2 linked regions of the Homo sapiens genome follow. The protein of the gene in region 1 purifies or fractionates together with the protein of each later gene. This does not show direct contact. Each region holds a gene or a part of one and is shown in the gene's direction. Other genes may lie near its edges. The genes, in order: TSPYL5 and ZFP91.

What was found.
Region 2: the proteins of TSPYL5 (region 1) and ZFP91 purify together in Homo sapiens (affinity purification with mass spectrometry; one large-scale study listed by BioGRID and IntAct). This does not show direct contact.

Annotation. Positions count from the first base shown.
Region 1 is NC_000008.11:97,274,872-97,279,419, reverse strand, and holds the start of TSPYL5 (testis-specific Y-encoded-like protein 5), read left to right. Parts: upstream 1-1,491; 5' UTR 1,492-1,575; coding exon 1,576-2,829; 3' UTR 2,830-4,548. UniProt on the Homo sapiens protein: Involved in modulation of cell growth and cellular response to gamma radiation probably via regulation of the Akt signaling pathway. Involved in regulation of p53/TP53.
Region 2 is NC_000011.10:58,610,063-58,613,876, forward strand, and holds part of ZFP91 (E3 ubiquitin-protein ligase ZFP91), read left to right. Parts: intron 1-235; coding exon 236-272; intron 273-887; coding exon 888-992; intron 993-1,541; coding exon 1,542-1,676; intron 1,677-2,215; coding exon 2,216-2,266; intron 2,267-2,699; coding exon 2,700-2,778; intron 2,779-3,814. UniProt on the Homo sapiens protein: Atypical E3 ubiquitin-protein ligase that mediates 'Lys-63'-linked ubiquitination of MAP3K14/NIK, leading to stabilize and activate MAP3K14/NIK. It thereby acts as an activator of the non-canonical NF-kappa-B2/NFKB2 pathway.

The DNA of each region.
Region 1 (4,548 bases):
AATCACTTGTATTAGGCCGGCTTAAAATAGGGCCATCTGTATAAAAATAATTCCTCTTTAAATTGTTTCCTTAAACTTAGGGGTGTATACAAATCACCCAGGATCTTGTTAAAATTCAAATTCTGACTTAGTAGGTCTGGGGAAAGGCCTGAGATTCTGCATCTTTAACAAGCTTTCAGGTGATATCAGGCTGCTGGTCCACAACCACACTTTGAGTAATGAGGTCCCGGGGCTTTTGGGCTTATCTCTCCACTAGCTGGTTACAAGGGCCTTTTTGTTCCCTTTGAGCCTGAAAAGACCACCTCAAAAGGTTTTTCTTTATATTTTTACATTAGCCACAGGTCCCCTCACTGTTCATGGTCCTATTACCTCACTAGTAAGAGCGTGGTCCAGGGCTGCCTCCGGGACTGTGGGGGAGGTTGTCCGGCTGTTTCCATGCACAGTGTAAGAAGTTTCTAGGGCTTCTGCAGTGCCACGTGGAGGCTCTGCTTCTGAACCTCAATCTGCTCCCTGAATAATAATTTCACCTCTCACCACATTCTTGTCTTACTCCAATTACAGGAGCTCTAATACAGGTCTTCACTTCTGGTCCTATACCTAGAGTGATAGTCCAGATCTGTAAACTGAGGCAGCTGGGGGACTCGGGTGATGTTCCCAGGCAGAAGAGGTGGTCAGGTGGTCCACGGAAGCCTGTTTGTTAAGGAGCAAGGCTGATTTCTTAAGAGCCAGCCCAGTAATTGACAGTGGAACAAGTCTGGAAGGACTTGCCATTTCCAAATATAAGGCATAGGATACGGAGTCCCATGGGCTTGAGTTTGAATTGTGCTTCCATCCCTTACTGTGTAACCTGGGGAATGTGCCCGGGTGTCTCTGAGATGCAGTTTTCTTATCTCGAAAATGGGAATGATATCAACACCTCCTTTGTAAATTGAGATAATGCATTTAAAGCACCTAGTAAAGTGCCTGGCACAAATGATACAAAATACTAGTTGCCATTATTTTTATAATTTCTACTATCATCTTACTGCGTACCAAATCGCTTTGACGCCCGGCATTATAGCATCCACCTTTACGTTCTCTGGAGTTAAGGTACCAGAGCAAATCCCTCAGCAAAGGTGTTCAAAGAGAGACACACACGCCCGAGCACTTTCTTCATGACAGATGCCACAAGAGATAACTGGAGGAGCTGAAGATGTTTAGTTTAGAAAACAGGTGATGGGGGACAGGTGGTGATGGCTCTTAGCGTTGCCTTGTTCAACGAGACCCTGAGAGCACGATGAGCCCGCGCGGAAGAGATGAAATGGCAGCACCCCCGCGAGCGCATATCAGAGAAACTCGCCGAGACCTAAAGCGAGTCCGCGCGAGATGGGGGTGGGAGCGCCCGCGGGGGTCGTCTCCTGCGCAGCCGCAGCGGCGGCGCCAATCACCGGGCGCATCACGTCCTCTCGCGACGGTACAGTTGTACGTTCGTGACGTCGGCGGTTGCCGTGGAGAGACCCGCTCGGTCCCGACCGAGAGCTGGCGTCAGGAGCCGCAGGGTCACAGCGTGTCTTTGAAGCTGCCTCCGCCGCCACCATGAGCGGCCGAAGTCGGGGTCGAAAGTCCTCCCGCGCCAAAAACCGGGGCAAAGGCCGCGCCAAAGCCCGAGTCCGCCCTGCTCCGGACGACGCCCCGCGCGACCCGGACCCTTCACAGTACCAGAGTCTCGGGGAAGACACCCAGGCGGCACAGGTGCAGGCTGGCGCGGGGTGGGGTGGCCTGGAAGCCGCTGCGTCCGCGCAGCTCCTCCGGCTCGGGGAGGAGGCCGCCTGCCGGCTCCCCCTGGACTGTGGCCTCGCGCTGCGGGCCCGAGCTGCGGGGGACCACGGGCAGGCCGCGGCCAGGCCCGGCCCGGGGAAGGCCGCATCTCTCTCGGAGCGCCTGGCCGCAGACACTGTCTTCGTGGGAACAGCGGGAACCGTGGGAAGGCCGAAAAATGCCCCCCGCGTTGGAAACCGGCGTGGCCCTGCCGGGAAGAAGGCCCCAGAAACCTGTAGCACCGCGGGGAGGGGGCCTCAGGTCATAGCTGGTGGGAGGCAGAAGAAAGGGGCGGCAGGGGAGAATACCTCGGTGTCAGCTGGGGAGGAAAAGAAGGAAGAGAGGGATGCAGGGTCGGGGCCCCCAGCGACGGAAGGCAGCATGGATACGCTGGAGAACGTGCAGCTGAAGCTGGAGAACATGAACGCCCAGGCGGACAGGGCCTACCTTCGGCTCTCCAGGAAGTTTGGGCAGTTGCGACTGCAGCACTTGGAGCGCAGGAACCACCTCATCCAAAATATCCCGGGCTTCTGGGGGCAAGCATTTCAGAACCATCCCCAGCTAGCATCCTTTCTGAATAGCCAAGAGAAAGAGGTACTGAGCTACTTAAACAGCTTGGAAGTGGAAGAGCTCGGCCTTGCCAGATTGGGCTACAAAATCAAGTTCTACTTCGATCGCAACCCGTATTTCCAAAATAAGGTGCTCATCAAGGAATATGGGTGTGGTCCTTCTGGCCAGGTGGTGTCTCGTTCTACTCCAATCCAGTGGCTCCCAGGGCATGATCTCCAGTCCCTAAGCCAGGGAAACCCAGAAAACAACCGTAGTTTCTTTGGGTGGTTTTCAAACCACAGCTCCATTGAGTCTGACAAGATTGTGGAGATAATCAACGAAGAATTGTGGCCCAATCCCTTGCAGTTCTACCTTTTGAGTGAAGGGGCTCGTGTAGAGAAAGGAAAGGAAAAAGAAGGCAGGCAAGGTCCAGGAAAGCAGCCAATGGAGACTACTCAGCCTGGGGTGAGCCAATCCAACTGATCCTGCACAAGTCTCCCTGCTACCTCCTGCTGGGCTGCTCCTGGTTGACTACATATTTGGCTCTCTGCCTTCTCTTCATGTTGGCCTCTGTGTACTATAGACCCTTTGGACTTTAGTTACAAGAATATGGCATTTATGATCATGTTCTTTTGCCTCCCATAGCCTCTTGCTTTTCTACGTTAGTGTCACATGTTATGTGATCGCACCCGGACTGTTCATATGTTAAGCACACATACTTTAGATGTGTGCTCCCTGTTATCTACATTGCCTGGACCTTGTTCTTGGCTCTGGCCTTTCCTACTTGTCTTTAACATGGACACTCATGAGTCATCCTCCAGGACGACCAGTGCATCCTCAAGCTCTGCTCCTTCAGGGCCAGTGACTTGCTGGGCTTCGTGTTCATGCTGGCCATGCATGTCATCTATGCAAGCGTTTCCATTGCCACTGCAGAATGAAGCCAGTGCACATGGTATTAGTCATCAGCCAGAACTTCCTGTTCTGTGGGTCTGGGGTCACCAGCTGAGATGTCACCTGCTTTATTTCTGGCTTTGGCCTGTGGTCTGTGATACCCATCCTGCTTGATGTTCTGCAGAATGGCACTTGACTGCTGGGCATGCATGAAGTTAAGGGCAAGAAACAGTATGCCATGTGTTCTGTACCATCATGTGTCTCTTCTTGCTTCTGGGCCCTTCTACTGGTGAACTTTCATCAAGATCTGCGCCATGCCGTGTCACTATCAAGCCATTAAGTTTTGTCTGGGTTGCTGTCAGCCCCAGTTGGCTTCCTGGTCAACAAGGACCTCAAGAACTGCCTGTGGACCGAGGCCCCCTACCAGTGCATGAGACACACACCTACCCTCCCCAGCTTTCCAGGAACCCTACTGGCTGCCAGACTGATGGGCGGGCTGGTATGTGTGGACATGTGTTCACTGTCATTATGCTGTGGCTCCAGGTGAGGGTGAGGACTGGGCCTATATAGAATCCAGATACCATTGTCAACTTCCCTTATTCCCGTCTAAGATGTGAGCAGAGTGCCATAGTAGGGGTTCTGGGAAGAGGTATTTCTGATTTGTGGGCCTCTGCTTGCTTGACTTCAGGTCACTTATACTTCTTATTTTGCTTGCCTGCCTTCATCCCTCATTTCCTCCCTCTCATTCTTCTTTCCTCCCTCCCTTTCCTGGTAGCCTCCTTTCCTCCCCTTCTGCCTTCCCCTTCCTTCTTTCCTTATTCTTTTTTATTTTGTTTAAATAGTACCACAGAGAAAACAACTGAAAAACCACATTTTTCTACATACAGCTGGGGAGGTAGCTGAGAACTTGGCACTGCGCACACATACTAGGTTGAAAGAGAGTTGAGGAAACCAGAAGGCCAAGTGGATCTGCTGGCAAACCCTGAACCTGTCTCCTGCGCTTGCTCTACAGTTCTGAAGTTGAAAATCCTTTTCATGCCTAGCATCTGCTTGAGTTATAAACCCCAAGGCAGCCATGTCATAGACTAGTGTTTACTCTTGTTTTGACTTTGTTTTAATGCTTCCTAAGACCCAAGTGCCTCCTGCTGTTTCCTCCTTTGTGGTAGCCTCTGGCCATCTGGACCTCAATCCCCAGCTTTCCCACTTTCAGCAGTCCTTTGCTCTCTTTGCTTCTACCTCAAATAGCCCCAGGAGTGGGCTTTAGTCTCCAATATGGAGCATCTCAAGCTTCTCCTGGGGGATGGGGATTGG
Region 2 (3,814 bases), on another chromosome or scaffold:
TGTTTACTAACTAGTTGCTGTTACATTTTAAATGTAATGTTGAACATTTGTGTTAACAGCTTAACTGTCAGGGGCAGGTTTGATGGTGTAGGTGGTATTTCTTTGAACAGTTTGCAGATATTCTGCTTTTGTATAATTACCCCATGCAGTAATTTGATTTGCATTTCTTGACTGCAGAGAGAAAATATCTTATATCTACACTAATAAAATTTTGTTTTTGGCTTTGTTTTTCTAGATGTTGGAGAAGAGCATCAGTCTCCAGGTGGCATTAGGTAAAAAAAACATTAATATTTCATTTTTAAACCTTTGGGGACATAGCATAGTCACAGTAAATGATTCAGAAGTTGCTTCCATTTGAAATTATTTTGAGCTGTAAGAGAAATTAACTTCAGTTTTGATACTGCATTTAGATTCCATGTTGAGCTTGATTAGAACTTAAACCATGTAATCTACTTACATAGCTTAGAAATCATGTCTTGAGTATCTTCTGTGTTTGGACTTATTCCATGGTAGGCACTAATGTGAAATATGGGTGTTTTGGCCAAGGTTTTGAGATTTTATTGGAATCTTTTGTGTTGTGATTTATCTGTTAGTAGGTCTTTTAATATAGCAGATCACCAGACAGTATTACAAAGTCAGTTGTTTCTTAACTTTTAATGCCATTGAGTTGTCATCACCCTGTCTTTATCTAGGATTTATGTCTTTTTAGTTTCAATTATTATTCTTTGTGATAAAACAGCTAGATTTCAGTCCAATTAGGTCATTAGGATGAAAATGCTAGATGACTTTATCAGTGTTTGGCTACCTCTTAAAAAATTACCAAATAAAATCCCCTCAGACATGTTCGCTACAACCAGAATGTCTCATTTCTATTTACTTATTTTTAGTAGTGAAGAGGAAGAGGAGGAGGAAGAAGAGATGTTAATCAGTGAAGAGGAGATACCATTCAAAGATGATCCAAGAGATGAGACCTACAAACCCCACTTAGAAAGGCATGTCTCAGATTTTACTGCAGACATGTTAATGAAATATAAGTAGGAAAGCACTGTTGCATGCTTTTATTTTATCTGTTGCCAAGCTAATGGGTATAGAATTAATTTTAAATGAGTAATTAATTATGCACTTCTTTTGTAAGTCTAACACCTTAATATACCCTGATAATAATCCTCTTTCCCATTTGTAGAACTTTATTTTGATTATATACAAGTTTTTATGAGTCTGCATGTTTTATTTCAACAAGGTATCATGAATTGCCTGAATACTTAGAATTTTTTAACTAATTGTCTCGTTTCTCTTTACAATTATAGTGAAATTTGATTTACAGGCATCTTTAGTCTGGGGAGGGTTCATTCCATGAGCAACATATACATATATTTGGATCATTACTATGCATGTGAGGATGATTGGTAGGAAATCACATTTCATGAACTGAGGAAGGTAGTTTTATAACAAATCAGTGATAACTCTAAGCTTTAATTTGTTGTCATAGTCTTCCTTGAAAAGATCTTTTGTCTAGTATTGAAATGCATTTGTGTTTTCAGGGAAACCCCAAAGCCACGGAGAAAATCAGGGAAGGTAAAAGAAGAGAAGGAGAAGAAGGAAATTAAAGTGGAAGTAGAGGTGGAGGTGAAAGAAGAGGAGAATGAAATTAGAGAGGATGAGGAACCTCCAAGGAAGTGAGTAGGCAATTATTAAAAATGAAAATCTAACAGATTTTGAACGACTAGTGGAAAAAAGAGTGGGAGTGTGAGGAAGGATGTTGACGTATACATGCTTCAAAATATGTATTTTTTAACTTAAAAAAATTTGGCCTCAAGCAGCTGACAATTTCACTGGAGAGACTCTTAGTAAAAAAATGTTTAGGTTTTTCAGTTCTATTGCAAGGAGAAGGTATTTTTTAATCTTAGTGTTTTTAGATGATACATGGTAGCAACTCTAAAAGTAATACATTGAGATTCTTCTAAGTCTTTCATAGTATTGCATAGTTTATGGAAGGTATATATTTAATCTGTCTTACAGACTGATTTGAAAGTGAAATTACTTCAGGGTAAAATTACTTGCTTGATTTGCCAGATATATCTTTGACTTTATGTATTCTTGGTTATCCTTTGCCACTTGTTCTTTGGCCGTGTGTGTGTGTGTGTGTCTTCAGCCAGCCTTCACTGTGTAGTTTTGATTCAGAATATGTCTACTGTTACCCTGTCTTCAATTACAGGAGAGGAAGAAGACGAAAAGATGACAAAAGTCCACGTTTACCCAAAAGGAGGTGAGGAATTTTTACCCCTACTGTTTTACACCTTATTCCAGTACCAGGCACTTTACTCACAAATTTAGACTTCATGATAATCCTGCAGGAATGGCTATTTAAAAATTTCACAAAAGCAACTTCACTAATGTCCTAGATGCACAGGTGTTATGATCTTATTTTCATTGTAAGAGCTTGAAATTTCTAACAATCTTAATACTTTACCTTTGGGGGGTCATTAGTTTATTTGTGTTACTTTTTAATTCTGTCAAATATTTGCTAATTCTTGGTTACTTCTAATACAAATTCTGTGTAATCTGTATAGTAGTAAAGAGATTTTAATTCTTCCTACTATAAAATAGCTATTCCCAATAGCACAGTTTAAGTCAGAGGCCACTGTGCAGAGTACCACTTTTTTTTTTTTGCTAACTTTTCTTCTGCATTTTGATAATAGAAAAAAGCCTCCAATCCAGTATGTCCGTTGTGAGATGGAAGGATGTGGAACTGTCCTTGCCCATCCTCGCTATTTGCAGGTCAGTGAAGTTGTTATATAAGAGCCTTTCAGGTTGTGTTCCATTACTTGTTCTTGCACCACGAGACTTTAATTTGTTGGCTTGTGTAGGCTTTATCATTGACATGTAATGTCAAGAAAAGTCTTTCTTTAAACATAAAATGACTTTAACCCATTTATGCCTAGTGTTCCATTATTAGAATGCTAAGCTTGGGCAAGTTATTTATATCCTACTGTTCAAGGTCATCACCAAGGTCTGATTTTTCACAAAAATACATTTGCAACCTCCAGCATAAATGGGTTAATCATGATTAGTCCATTTGTGCTGCTATAATAGAGTACCTGAGACTGGGTAATTTACAAAGAACATATATTTATTTATTAGCTTGTGGTTCTGGAGACTGGAAAGTCCAAAAGCATGGTGCCCACATCTCACAAGAGCCTTTTAACTGTGTCAGCCCATGGTGGAAGGGCAAGAATGGGTTGAACTTGCTTTTGTAACAAATCTACTCCAATGATAATATCAACCCATTTATATAAGGGTAGAGCCTTTAAGACCTAAGCACCTCCCATTAGGTCCCGCCTTCCAACACTATCACATTGGGGATTAAGTTTCCAACACATGAACTGTGGTGAACACATCCAAATTCATAGCACCTCCTGTTTAAAAAGAGGTGACTAAGAATCTGAACCCACATAGAGAACTTTCGTTGGAATCTTTCAATATTACAGTAATTCCCAATGTGGTGTAAATACAGAGTAACATTTTATTTTAAAGTGATTTAGAAAAAAAGTAAAATTAGAACTCAAACCTGTGATTTCTTGGGTACTGTGTAGAATGAATAAAAGACTTTTAGTTGAGGTTTTGTTTTTATTTTTCTTGAGTAGATTATTATTATTATTTTTGATGAGTAAACGTACCACTTATATTTAGGTCTGGCAGGAAACGTGAAAGTGAAATACTGCTTAGGAAATACCTGTTTGATCTTCAGCAACAAATATAACATGACACGAAGGCCTTCTTCTGGATCGTGGTTCAGTTATAACAATAGCCGCTC